Homo sapiens: one gene and its partners. The protein of the gene in region 1 purifies or fractionates together with the protein of each later gene. This does not show direct contact. Each region holds a gene or a part of one and is shown on either strand. Other genes may lie near its edges.

What was found.
Region 2: the proteins of ZNF354C (region 1) and IPO8 purify together in Homo sapiens (co-immunoprecipitation; 2 studies listed by BioGRID and IntAct, with this or other methods). This does not show direct contact.
Region 3: the proteins of ZNF354C (region 1) and IPO7 purify together in Homo sapiens (co-immunoprecipitation; one large-scale study listed by IntAct). This does not show direct contact.
Region 4: the proteins of ZNF354C (region 1) and USP34 purify together in Homo sapiens (affinity purification with mass spectrometry; one large-scale study listed by BioGRID and IntAct). This does not show direct contact.

What each region holds. Positions count from the first base shown.
Region 1 is NC_000005.10:179,080,870-179,084,375, reverse strand, and holds the end of ZNF354C (zinc finger protein 354C), read right to left. Parts: 3' UTR 399-3,506; downstream 1-398. UniProt on the Homo sapiens protein: Transcriptional repressor that inhibits endothelial angiogenic sprouting. Suppresses osteogenic effects of RUNX2 and may be involved in osteoblastic differentiation.
Region 2 is NC_000012.12:30,678,869-30,682,374, forward strand, and holds part of IPO8 (importin-8), read right to left. Parts: intron 2,950-3,506; coding exon 2,791-2,949; intron 1,771-2,790; coding exon 1,614-1,770; intron 1-1,613. UniProt on the Homo sapiens protein: Involved in nuclear protein import, either by acting as autonomous nuclear transport receptor or as an adapter-like protein in association with the importin-beta subunit KPNB1.
Region 3 is NC_000011.10:9,422,647-9,426,152, reverse strand, and holds part of IPO7 (importin-7), read right to left. Parts: intron 3,148-3,506; coding exon 3,013-3,147; intron 2,377-3,012; coding exon 2,277-2,376; intron 1,240-2,276; coding exon 1,163-1,239; intron 1,008-1,162; coding exon 891-1,007; intron 1-890. UniProt on the Homo sapiens protein: Functions in nuclear protein import, either by acting as autonomous nuclear transport receptor or as an adapter-like protein in association with the importin-beta subunit KPNB1.
Region 4 is NC_000002.12:61,209,087-61,212,592, reverse strand, and holds part of USP34 (ubiquitin carboxyl-terminal hydrolase 34), read left to right. Parts: intron 1-663; coding exon 664-821; intron 822-3,506. UniProt on the Homo sapiens protein: Ubiquitin hydrolase that can remove conjugated ubiquitin from AXIN1 and AXIN2, thereby acting as a regulator of Wnt signaling pathway.

The sequences.
Region 1 (3,506 bases):
TACGAGCCTCTGGGTATTTAATTCTTCCAGAAAATGTTAGGGTATTTTTTCCAGCAGGCAATTTAACTGGCTAAGTCTTGGTGACCAGTTCCAATCCATCTCCTGTGGGCTGTGGTTCTAATGTCAGTCCAGTTTTCTAAGTATTCTCAGTGCTATTTGGATCTTTGCCCAGTGTCAGACCCAAACAATTATCGGGTCAGACCTATATATGTATAGACCAGGGGAGAGCCCCAGATTGCATAAACAACTGTTATGAAATCACTTTCTTGACCTTCCTTATCTTTGTCACCACCTTGACACCTTCCACCTCTCAGGAGCCACTTCCTCTTCCTGATCTTCAGGTTAGAAATCCAAGGGTTTAGGTTCTCCTCTCTGCTACACACCTCATGGATACATCACCTCCAGGTCCAAGTAGCAGGAAGATAGATAGGGAAGAAAAGCAATGGGGAGTCTCCTAACCCTTTTTGGCTCACAAATCCTCTGCCCAGAGTGAAGGGTTCCTAACTCTGAGGTTTAGATGCCTGCTCAGCCATCTCTGTCCTCACCACAGGAATGCCCAGGAGCGCCACAATGATCTTGTTTCAAATTCTAGTTTCCTTCCCAAATCTGCCTGTTGTTATCAATCATTACTTTTGAGGGTCCCCAGACAGCTGCTCCATGCCTTAGTTACATTTAGCATGAGAGATAAAGTGGAACATGCTCATTCCATTTAAAGGAGAACTGGTACCACCTAGTTACTTTATTGCCAATGATTACATCCCTGGAGGATAAACTCTCAAACAGGAACTTCCTAAGAATATAAATGGAGAATTCTGATTGAAAGATTAATATTCATCACTTCTTTATCCAATCACTTTTTGCATTTTTATTAAAAATTGACACACATAGAAAAATGTTTTAAATGACCAATGAACATCCACCACATATAGATCCACCACAAAAAACAATTGACTGATTTTGTACATATTTATTTGAAAATATGCTGTCAACATCATGACTTTTCAAAACTTAAAAAAAAAACTTCTGCATGCATCTCCTAAGAATTAGAACATTATCCTACGTAACTCAATTATCACTTCTAGAAAAATCAAATATACCACATTATCTACTACCCATTCCATCTTCCTATTTCCCCAAATATCCCCCCAAATGTCTCTTATAGGTTTTTTTATGAATCAGAAGCTAATAAAGGATCACACTTTCCATTTGGTTATGTCTCTTGTCTTAATCTAGCAGAGACCACTTTTTGTTTTACTACATTTGCTTTTTGAAAAGTCCAGACCAGGGCCAAAATGCACAAACTATGGCTTACAACATCACACCCCTGCGTAGGGCCAGTGGAATGTGTGCAAGATCAGTTTGGCTTCATTAACTATGAAGTAGGGGATAGCAAGAAGCTCTTTTTCCATATGAAAGAAGTTGAGGATGGCCTTGAGCTCCAGGCAGGAGATGAGGTGGAGTTCTCCGTGATTCTTCATCAGCGCACTGGCAAGTGCAGTGCCTGGAATGTTTGGCGAGTCTGTGAGGGCCCCAAGGCTGTTGCAGCTCCTCGACCTGATCGGTTGGTCAGTCGCTTGAAGAACATCACCCTGGATGATGCCAGTGATCCTCGCCTAATGGCTCTTCGTCAGCCAAGGGGACCAGATAACTCAATGGGGTTTGGTGCAGAAAGAAAGATCCGTCAAGCTGGTGTCATTGACTAACCACATCCACAAAGCACGTCATTAATCCACTATGATCAAGTTGGGAGGAATCTGGTGAAGGTTTCTGAATATCTCCCTCTTCATCCCTCCCGAAATCTGGAATACTTAGTTCTTTTGAGCTATTACACCAGTTTTAACAGCTTCCTCGTGTTATGTTTAAAAAAATAAATTTAAGAAAACCATTTTAAAATAAATATATAAAAAAAAGTCCAGTTGTCCTATACCAACTCTGGACTTGTCTATTTATTTCCATACTGTGTAATTCAACTTGTTCCTCTATTCCTGTATTTCTTTAAACAGGAAGATAAGTCTAGACAAAAGATTTAATTAAATTTGAGGTAAACATTTTCGGCAGTACATCAAGGATGATCACACATGCTTCATACCGCATCCCATCAAGAGCCACATAATGCTGGCTTATTCCAGAAGTAGTGAAATGCAGTTTGATAGCCAAATCTCACTGTAAAGGCAATTCTTTTGCAATAGATATCTGTGATGTTCTGACACCTTGTAAACAAAGTTCCTTAAAATTTTTTCCACTTAATGGGTTTTACCATCGATTTTTGCCAGATTTAATTACATTAAGGGTTGTAAAATGGTAATTTTTCCAAATCTATCATTCCATGTACATTTAAAAGAAGACATTCTTCAAATAATTGTATAGAGTTTTCTTTTTTCTCTACTTTCATCATTATGAACTTCTTTTCCTTCTTAGTATTATCACCAGTAAGAGTGATTATTCTAAGTTGTCCTAAATTTGGCCAGTGAGAATACCTTCAACTTGGCGCCTGTTCCCTTCTGACATTACCCCATTAGTCTTCAAATACTATCTTGCTTTTTATTTTATTTTCTTAATAAAAAGTATTTTAGCCACACCACCCACTTCCCCTGCTCCAAACATGGAATCAGCCATTTCTCCAAGGAACCCTGGTTCCTTTTAGTGGGGAATGGCATTTAGAAACCAAAATTTGGGTACTAAGCATGCTCACCACTACTGGGTACAATGTTAAATAGTGAGGTCTGTTTAAAAGCCTCATTTTCTTTGTAAATGTATTTAAATACATAAAATAATTACTTTCTGATAAGCTAAAACCAGTCGGTTAAGAAATATACTATACTGACTGCTTGAGTTTAATTCTAACATTTTTCTCAGAAGGTCTAGCTAATTGTATTAGAATTTTTTTTAATGATACCAACTGTGAATTGAATGAAAAATCAAATATAAAATTGGAGGAAAAACGCCTGGGAGGAATTAAACATTTAAACTGATGAAAGGAATGCTTAATAATAAACTCTTCATATATAACTTTCCATAAAATAATTAATTCCTAAAATATGTGTAATAAGAAGGCAACCTTATATGTGAAGCCTCCAAAAGCAATTACACTATCTGGACCTCAGCTAGCTTTAAGGATTTAAGTACAATTATAACAAAAGCAGGCATAATTAGGGACTCATAAGAAAAAAGAATATAGTTGTGAGTCAATTATTAAGATTAAGGTGAGAGGAAGCCCTTAAAGATAACACAGTAACTTTAAATTACTGCAACTATGTCTAACCAGGCTACAAAACAAATAGTACTCTTGGGACCTCAGGTTGGAAACGAGCCTATAATGATCACAAAACACCAGAACCAAAGACCTAGATTCTAGTCTTGACTCTGTTCACTAAGTTCAAATCCTTCGTTAGTACAATGAAAGGCTATAATTAAACTAAAATCTCTCCTGGCTCTAATGAGCTACCAGACATGCAGCCTGAGATTCTGCCAAATACATCCCTTCTGCAACAGATAACAAAGTATGT
Region 2 (3,506 bases), on another chromosome or scaffold:
TCGCTCTGTCACCCAGGCTGCAGTGCAATGGTGCAATCTCAGATCACTGCAACCTCCGCCTCCTGGGTTTGAGCAATTCTCTCACCTCAGCCTCTGGAATAGCTGGAATTAGAGGCACCCGCCATCATTTCTGGCTAATTTTTGTATTTTTCTAGAGATGGGGTTTCACCATGTTGGCCAGGCTGGTCTTGAACTCCAGACCTCAGGTGACCCACCCACCTTGGCCTCCCAACGTGCTGGGATTACAGACCTGACCCACTGCACCCGGCTGCTCATACTTTTAAAAACAAAATTGTCTGCTCCTTCTCATATTATCGCTTTTTACTTATGTCAGCATTGTAATAGTGGCTCCTAATGCCTTCTAAATTTCTACTTCCCAGAGGAGAATATTAATGTATTAGTACATAACAGATTACCAAAATGGTTAAAAATGTTGAGGTTTTCCAGGTTTTTAGCAAGTATAGACTGAGAAAAATATGAAGATTCTGTCGTCTTAGCAAACCAATTAGAGGTAGAGGCTTTAGAAAAATTATTTCATTAGCCTTTGTCTTACTTCCCAATTTCTAGCTGTTTCTGCCAATAGAAAAAGGAAGTCTGGCCTCTGAATATTATTTCAAAACAAGTGAGAGAACATATTTTCCTAGTATTCTAGTTTCTTCTCTTCTCACATTTGCCTCCTTCCCTCTTCTCTTTCCCTGCAAAAAGGCTGCTCTGGGGGAAAAAAAAAAATATCTGCCTCAGACTATCCCTATTAAAAGTTTAAAAGGGGAAGCTTTAATAAAAATATAAATCTTTATTAAAGTAAAATATTTTGAAATAGTTTAAGTATCTAAGTCAATAAAAAGCCAAGGATGGATCCAAACTATCATGGTTTTTGAGCTCAACAAAACCATCCTCTTCTCACGACAAATTCAACTAGAAAGCATGTAATAGAGTTTAATTCATTCATCAAACAGTTAAGACTGAAAACAATTATTCTTCCTCCAATCAGACCTAAATAATTTACCCAAATCTTTCAAGGATTTGATGTTAAATATTTTTATATTTCAAACATATTCCATCTCTATCTTCTCATTTCTTTCCGGATTCCCATGTTGGTATCCCTTATAGCATTCAGATTTTTTTTTTTTAGGCAGTATTTTAAACCAAGGAAAATGAACCCTAAATCCTCTGTTAGCTTTGAGTCAAATGCAAAGAAACTACCATCAATATGATTTCCCAATAGAAGAGGGACTCCCTTCTTCTTTTCCTTCTTCTTTTCCTTCTTCTTTTCCTTCTTCTTCTCTTGTAATCATAACTAATCTATAGGCAGGAATGCTACAGAACAGATAGTTGCGAGTAATCAGGTTTTAGAGCAGGTAGGTTTACCTACCCTGGTTCTGCTTTACCCATGATTTCAGACACTGGAGTGAAAAGCACTTAGGGGCAGATATGCCATTGAGACGATCTTGGGTAATTAATTTCTGTGAACCTGTTCCTCATAAGCATTTTTTAAAGAAATATATGGGATAATACAAAATAATTTTTAATAATAAGTGACACTTATTGAGCACTTTCCATGTGTCAGGCAGAAATACAGGACTCCATGTTTGTTTTCTGCAATAGAAACCTACCTGAACAAGTGCATAAAAGATTTTCAGAATTTGTTTCTGCAGTAATACAGAATAATAGGAGGAATCAGGAAGGAGCTGAACAATTTGTTGCTGAATACGAGGCAGGAATATCTGCATTGCTATTATAAGAGGTTCTCTCTCTTCTGCTTTCTTATATCTACATGAGCAAAGACAAAAACAGAAAAGTAATTTTTCCCACCCAAAGAACCATCAACAATAAATTATAAAATATTTTTTAAATACATAAAACTAACAAAACAAAGTCATTAACATTGGCTTCTAGTTTGTTTGAATTGCTAGAATTAAGTTGAAAAGAAATTTAAAATAACACATCCTGTTTTAGGCACAACACCTAAAATCTTTCTGGAAAGATTTAGACTAGTTTAAAACAACCCGAGACCATTTTGCAGTTTTCCTACATGAATGTTTCTAGTATTTAAATTAATTTTCATCCAGCCAAAATTCTTACTATAAAATATAAGTTGCTATGCTATTTTAAATAGACTATATAACAAATAATATGGGGGGAATTTTCTTATTATATTTCTCCCTGAATTGAGTAGTTAAAATAGTTTAAAATTTAGGTGCTCTTAGATTGCTTTAATTGCCATAAATCTAAAATATGTTCTATAAATTTCATAAGCAGAGTAGGAACTAGTCAGTTTAAAAGGAGAACTACAGGACTTCATATACACATGTAGCAATCTTCCTAGAAACCAGAAAGCAATACTATTAAGTGTGATATTAGTCCTCTACCTACCCAAGCTACTTTTATGGAAAAGAATGTCATTAGCAAAGAAACGTTAACATTTTCTATCTTGCATCCAAAAAAGTAAATGTTTTGGTTTACTTAATATACTCCCTAGAAGACAAATATAAAGGTATCTCTATATCAGAGTTTCCAAGGAAAGCTGTTAATAAATGGTACTGTGCAACTAACAAGTTTGAGAAGTGCTTCATATTATATCACTGTCTCAGAGGTTAGCAATATCCATCAGCACATTAAAGTTTCTTTCAATAACTGCAGCAAATAAACACATTTAAGCATGTTTAACCCAACATTTCCCAAACTAATCTGATAACCTGTGCAGAACATCCACAACAGACCACTCTTTGCAACTTCATTATTTCTAAGTTACACAAGGCTGCTTTCTTCAGCCAATGGAAACCAACTTACTCATATGTCTTCACCAGTTGATACAGGCATAATAAACTGCCAAGCCAGCTTGCACTGCTCTGTGATTGCAAGTAATAGTCTATCTTGTCGACCACTCCTGGCCAGTGACCAGGAAAATCATGTTTTATGATGGCACGGAGACACATTGTTAATTGGACTCTACAAAGTAGGGAAGAAAAGTCCAAAATCTAAGTAATTATAAATACTGTGTTTCAAAGACCTCTAATATTTTACATAAAAGTTTGTTATCTTCTATTTACGTGTATTATATACTTACATATGTGGGGTAGGGGAAAAAGACATATCTAAAAAACATCCTCAGTGGCTCAACTTGTTGAAAATAAACAGAATGGGTGAGTTTCTAAAATGAATGAAACCTTTCAAACTATCTTATCCTAAATACAGTTTAAAAAAATTGTTTTAAATAGTTTAAAATTTTCAAAAAACTCCAATGAATCTACCTCCACTCTGTAAAATTTCCAGCTTATTATATCTCATATTTTGGTTACCATATCCTGAATGGGGGAAAAAATAACACTTCAAACAGATAAACCTAGTCTAAAGATGGTACAAGTAAGTACAAAGAAGGCCTACATAATGGTGGGAAGCTTCTCTATGGGCCAAAACCTTGAACTCATCCATTATCAATTAAAACCCAACATCGTATGTTGAATCTATCCAAAGCAGTCTGAGATACTAATTTTTGTACCCCAAGT
Region 3 (3,506 bases), on another chromosome or scaffold:
AGAGTTCCTTCTGGGGGTGATAGTTATACAACTGTGAATAAACTAAAAACCACTGAGTTGTACACTCCATAAGGTTGTTATTTTTTATTTTTTTATTTTTTTTTGAGACGGAGTCTCTGTCGCCTGGACTGGAGCATGGAGTGCAGTGGCATGACCTCGGCTCACTGCAGCCTCCGCCTCCCAAGTTCAAGTGATTCTCCTGCCTCAGCCTCCTAAGTAGCTGGGATTACAGGTGCCCACCACCATGCCCAGCTGATTTTTTTTTTTTTTTTTGGAGACAGAGTCTCACTCTGTCGCCCAGGCTGGATTGCAGTGGCGTGATCTCGGCTCACTGCAAACTCCACGTCCCGGGTTCAAGCCATTCTCCTGCCTCAGCCTCCTGAGTAGCTGGGACTACAGGCGCCAGCCACCATGCCCGGCTAATTTTTTATTTTTATTTTTAGTAGAGACGGGGTTTCACTGTGTTAGCCAGGATGGTCTCGATCTCCTGACCTCATGATCCACCCACCTCGGTCTCCCAAAATGCTGGGATTACAGGCGTGAGCCATCACGCCCGGCGGATTTTTGTATTTTTAGTAGAGACGGGGTTTCACCATGTTGGCCAGGCTGGTCTTCAACTGCTGACCTCAGGTGATCCCCCCGCCCTGGCCTCCCAAATAGCTGGGATTACAGGCATAAGCCACCACACCCGGCCTATTTTTTATCCTTATAGAGATGGGGGTATCACTATGTTGCCCAGGCTGTTCTCAAACTCCTGGGCTCAGGCAATCTGCCTGCCTCAGCATCCCGAAAGTGCTGGGATTATAGAAGTGAGCCACTGTGCCTGGCTGGCTATTTATTTTTTAAAACTACTTGCATAGTCATGCACATACAAACACACTAAAGAATACCTTCAGAAGTATTTCAGCTAAAGAGCCAATCATATGCAGGGCTCCATCTTTTTTTCGAGGGTCAGCATTTGGTTCTGTAAGAATCTGGTAACAAAATCCCATAGTCTTTTGCAGTACCTAGATTAAAAGAGAAAAGTATTGTTACTGAATAGGCCAACAGTCCTTAAAAAACATACTAACAAAATGACTCACATGACTAACATTTAAAAAGTGTATAGTTGAATAAATTTTAAATAATACAGAAAAGTTATCTAAACATTAAATAAGCCTACCTCTTTCCTCTTACTACAGGCTGTAAACAAAAGTGTCTGGGCAGCAGTGGTAGGAGAAATGAAATCTTCAAACACATCTAGAGAACAAGTTTAAAATTAAGACAATAAACATTAATTTCTTCAACAAAGCATTAAAAAACATGCTTAATCTTTACATAAGGTATGAAAATGATCCCAGATCCCTTTATAATTTTGCAAAAGCAGAATTCAATGTCTTTTCTGTACAAATTGAATGCTTTTGTTTGTTTTGAGATGGAGTCTCGCTCTGTCACTCAGGCTGGAGTGCAGTGGGCGATCTCGGCTCATTGTAACCTCCATCTCCCAGGTTCAAGCAATTCTCCTGCCTCAGCCTCCCAAGTAGCTGGTTTACAGGTGCCTGCCACCACGCCCGGCTAATTTTTGTATTTTTAGTAGAGATGGGGTTTCACTATATTGGTCAGGCTGGTCTCAAACTCCTGACCTCAAACGATCTGCCTGCCTCGGCCTCCCAACACGTTGGGATTTACAGGCCTTAGCCACCGCACCTGGCCTGTGAAAATTAAATGTTAATCCATGAATTCCTCCTAATAGCTTTCATTTTTATTTATTAACTCAGAACTCAGCAGTTTAAATCGTATGTATGAAACACTACTGATGTGAGAATTTTCACAACAGGGTCACAAAAGTACAAGCTGCAAAAAGCACAAATGACTTGGTAAGAATAAGGACCAATATTCAACATTATTAGCCAAATTACAATTCTTTAGTTCTGTGCAAGGACTTCATGTGACACCAGCTTCCTAGATGTGTTTTCTCATTTCCCACTCATATGATGGCTAACATAAGATCCAAAAGTATAGTTAAGACATTTAGTGTTGAGGTGTAATCTTGAATATCTAACAGTTTTGGTATTCAGTAATAAAAACTTAACAGTATTGAATTTGTGTCTGCCAAAAATAAGATTATCATTATCAAATGTCATAATTAATAAATAGCCCCAAAAAGGACTACACAAGGGATCAATTACATTAAAACAACAAAGAAGATACATAATACCCCCTAGGTTGGCTACATGCAATCACTGTAATCTTAATTACTGACATTTTTTGTTTCTAAAAACGTGAAAATTCCTTACCAAACTTCATGCGTATATATTCGTAAGGGTCTTCTTGCCAAAGTTCCTCATCAGCATCTGTATAGCACATCAATGGAAAAATAACATCTTGGATAATGCCCTGCAATTTAAAAGTTAAGAAAACAATAACCATCAGTTTTCAAATTTAAACCTTCAAATTTCCTTTAAGTATTAAAACCAAAGTAACACTATATGTATTTTAAAGCTTAATATCAAACGTTAGTAATGCATTTAATGTGTTCTAAGATCAACTATCAAACTACATGTACTTCCCCTTTCTGTAACAAGTAACTTTAAGATATATGTGTACAAAGGTCGCAATTAAGTATTCTAAATATATATAGTCTATAAAATTCTACAGCTCTAAATAAAGCACATAAATTATTCATAGAAATAGCAGGTAAGTCATTTATACTAGAAATGAATCTGGTGAGATAAAGTCCCTTGGCTACTCCAAATTACATGATAAAATATAATCATAGTCCAATATTAAGAACTTAAATTGCAAGTTTGAAGACAACAGTTTTGGATTAAAAGATAAGTTGAATATTCACAAGATACCTCTCATAACTTTATGTCACTGTCTTATCTCCTTTTTCTGCTATACTCTCAAAACAATCACCAGAAGTAGTCTAAGTAACACAACTCAACAAACATGCAATTTTTCAACCTTTATGGCAATTGATGTCATTTCTATTATATTTACTATAAAAACATTTCAGATAAAAATTATTACTTGTATATGGGGCTTCAGATTCTTCCAGGTGAGAGCATGAGAAACTCCTTGATTAATATAATTTAATGTCTGTTGTAAAACTCGAGGAGCCATATATTGCTTCTCCTTGTACTGATATAACACCTTCAATAAAACCTTGGAAAAAAATTTTCGATCACAAATCAATGTTCAAATAGAAATTTCAACCACTTACAAGCCAGTAAAAACAGTTAACACATATTTTAATGACAAGCTCATCATCAAGAAAAACAACCGTATACTTTGAAAAATAATTTAACTCATTTCTGATTAAGAATGAAAAGAAGAGAAAACTATATACTATCTTCGTTTTTCTGGGGTTTTTTTTGTTGTTGTTGTTAGAGACAGTGTCTCACTACGTTGCCCCGGCTGGTCTCTAACTCCTGGCCTCAAGCGATTCTCCCATCTCAGCCTCCCAAAGTGCTGGGATTACAGGTGTAAGTCACCACACCTAACCCATTTGCTACCTATTGAAA
Region 4 (3,506 bases), on another chromosome or scaffold:
AAAATCACAGCTAGTGATTTTACTAAAATATTTGTTTTTACTTTTTATTCATCAGGAAATTGAACTGAGCATCATTCTAGAAAAGCATTTTAAATGTTGGAACAAAGGTTTACCTCATATACACTATTAATTTAAGGGTTATTTAGGCATTTAAAATCTTTGTGACAAAGTAATGATTTCTCATTAATTAAAGAAAAAGTGGATAGGAGATGGTGTGGCATGCCTCTGGGTTTACATTTGAAGTTACAAAAGTAGTGCTTTAAGCAGTAATAAGACTAAAAATGAATTGTATTCACTTACAGTTTTTACTCTTTCTAAACTTGTATTTTAAGATTTGTTGAGTTCTTTTAGTGTTTATTATTATTGTTATTATTTGTATTTTAGTAGAGACAGAGTTTCATCATGTTGCCCTGGCTGGTCTCGAACTCCTGAGTTCAGGCAATCTGCCCGCCTCTGCCTCCCAAAGTGCTAGGCATCAGCCACTGCGCCCAGCCAAAATTTTTTAAATAGAATTTGTTACTGATTTTATAACTTTCTGAATGGAAGTATAATCTAGCTTATTTGTATAATTTTAAGAGTTGATTAATGAACGTAGAAATGAGAAACTGACCTTCTAAAATGCTATAGGGTTAAAAGATCATATGGCTTATTTGGCTTTTTTAGGCAGTAGAAGAACTGTTTAACCTGATGCAGCTGTTTATAGCTCAGAGGCCAGATATGAGAGAAGAAGAATTAGAAGATATTAAACAGTTCAAGAAAACAACCATAAGTTGTTACTTACGTTGCTTAGATGGCCGCTCCTGCTGGACTACTTTAATAAGGTAAAAAGATGTTTTTAGTTTTGTCTTGTTTATTTCCAGTGAGATGAGGACCATCCTTTTGATGTTTAAAGATAAATCATTTACATTGGGGAAGCATTTGTGCATGTAGCCACTTTGGAACATTTTGAAGGTTCATGAACTACTTTTAAACAGTTTTTGGTCTGGCTTTGGTTTGTATTTGTGTATGTTTTATCATTTTAGGGTTGAAGGGAACCTTTATGTATAGCCTTCTACCCAAAGCTTGAATAGTCTTGTTTATGGCAATTTATCCTAACTCAGGCTTGATAGTTCAGTTCTAGAGGCCTCCAGGAAGTTTTCTGCACCTTTGGATGAGTCTGTTAATATTTTGCATTCTGTTTAGCCCAAATATATCTATCTGGCTTTCTGATCTATATGACTTGGCCAAAATTATAAAACATAGTCTTTATAATTAATTTTCAGAGCTACAGAAGTTATTGAATGGTTACAGGAACTACTACAAATTACCCTTAATTCCCCTTAACCTAGAGAAATAAAGTTCAGGCTAATTTCTTAAATTCTTCTATGTATTACATCTAAGACTTGGAAGTGTTGTTTTTTATTAGGCACATTTTTTTTAATGGTACTTTACTGAAGACTTCACTGTAATATCTTAAGCTACTCAATCTAAGATGAGGTTATTTCAGATTGTCTTCTTTGGAAAGCTTTCAAATGTGAGTCTTCATTAGTAAACAGGGAAATTAACTACGCCTTTGCCGGATTTCTTAAAGGGATTGTTTTTAAATTTTGGATTAATTTTGAATACAATTGTTTTCCCAAAGTTTACTACTTAAAGCTTTATTTCAAAAAAGATTTAGAGCAGCCTGGGCAACATAGTAAAACCCCATCTCTATATAAATAAATAAGTTAGCAAATAAATTAGGGTGTGACGGCATGCACCTGTAGTCCCAGCTCCTCGGGGGGCTGAGGTGGGAAGATCCTTGAGCCCAAAAGGTGGAAGCTGCAGTGAGCCATGATTGTGCCATTGTACTCCAGCCTGGGTGACAGAGCGAGTCTCAAAAAAAGAAAAAAAAGATTTGGAGCTTTCTTAACTCTTCTTGAAAAAGGAAAGGAATAAAGTAGAAGGATTTCCAGTTGTAGTCTATAACAACATTTTTCTGGTATCTAATGAAAGAAGACCTGTTAACAGTAATATAGCTGTGTGAGTAATTATAGTCATGTGTTGCATAACAACAGGGTTACATTCTGAGAAATAAATTTTTAGCCTATTTCATCATTGTGCAAACATCAGAGTGACTACTCACACACAACTAGATAGTAGCGCCTGCTACACCCCTAGGATATATGGTATAGCCAACTGTTCCTAGGCTCTAAATCTGTATAGCATGTTACTACACTGAATACTGTAGGCAATTATAACAGAAAGGTAAGTATTTGTGTATCTAAACGTATTTAAACATAGAAAAGGTACAGTAAAAATATGGAATAAAAGACAGAAAATGGTACACTTGTGTAGGGCACTTACCATGAATGGTGCTTGCAAGACTGGAAATTGCCCTAGGTAAGCCAGTGAATGAGTGGTGAGGGAATGTGAAGGCCTGGGACATTATTGTACCCTACTATAGACTTTATAAACACTGTACACTTAAGCTACACTAAATTTATTTTAAAATACTTTTTCTTCATTATTAATGTACTGAACTTTTTTTACTTTATAAGTTTTTTTAACTTCTTGATTCTTCTATCGTAGCACTTAAAACACACTATCATAACACTTAAAACACACATTTTATAGCTGAACAAAAGTATTTATATCTTTATAAGCTTTTCATATTTAAATTTTTTTTCTTTTTAAATGTTTTCGTTAAAAACTAAGACATAAACACACACAATTAGGCTAGGCCTAGCAGGGTTGGGATCATCAGTATCTCTGTCTCCCACCTCCACATCTTGTCCCACTTGGGAGGTCTTCAGAGGCAGTAACTAGCTTAGAGCTGTCATCTCCTCTGACAATGATGCCTTCTTCTGGAATCCCTCCTGTAGGGCCTGTCTAAGGCTGTTTTACATTTAACTTTTTTTGAAATAAGTAGTAAAATAATGATAATATAGTAAATACATAAACCAGTAACATAGTCATTTATTAACATTATCAAGTATTAGGTACTGTACATAATTGTGGTATACTTACAAGACTGGCAGTACAACAAGTTTGTTTATACCAGCGTCATCAGAGACATGTGGGTAATGCATTGTGAATGTTACCATGGCTATGAAGTCACTAGGCTAATAGGAATTTATCAGCTCCATTATAATCTTATGGGACCACCATTGTGTTTGTGATCCATCATTTACCACAATTTCATTTTGTGGCACATGACTGTATTTTATAAACTATTTTCAAGGCTGACACGTTTTTAGTATTTTTTTCCTTCATGTTACTCTTTTTTAATTACCAGCTGATGAGTGTTTAGATAATATGGTGAATTTTATGATTATCCAGAATTTAACAATCAGAAGATGAGCCTATTATAAAAATCAACATTGTTTATGTGGAAACTTTAAAAATATTCCCATATCTTCTGCCATTGTAGATAATTAGCAGTTGATTAGATATTAATAGACTTTTTTTTAGTTAGAGTTTATTTAATATTATTTCCTTATGCTGCATTTCCAGGAAACAGATGAAGCAGTCTCTTTTCTGTAGGT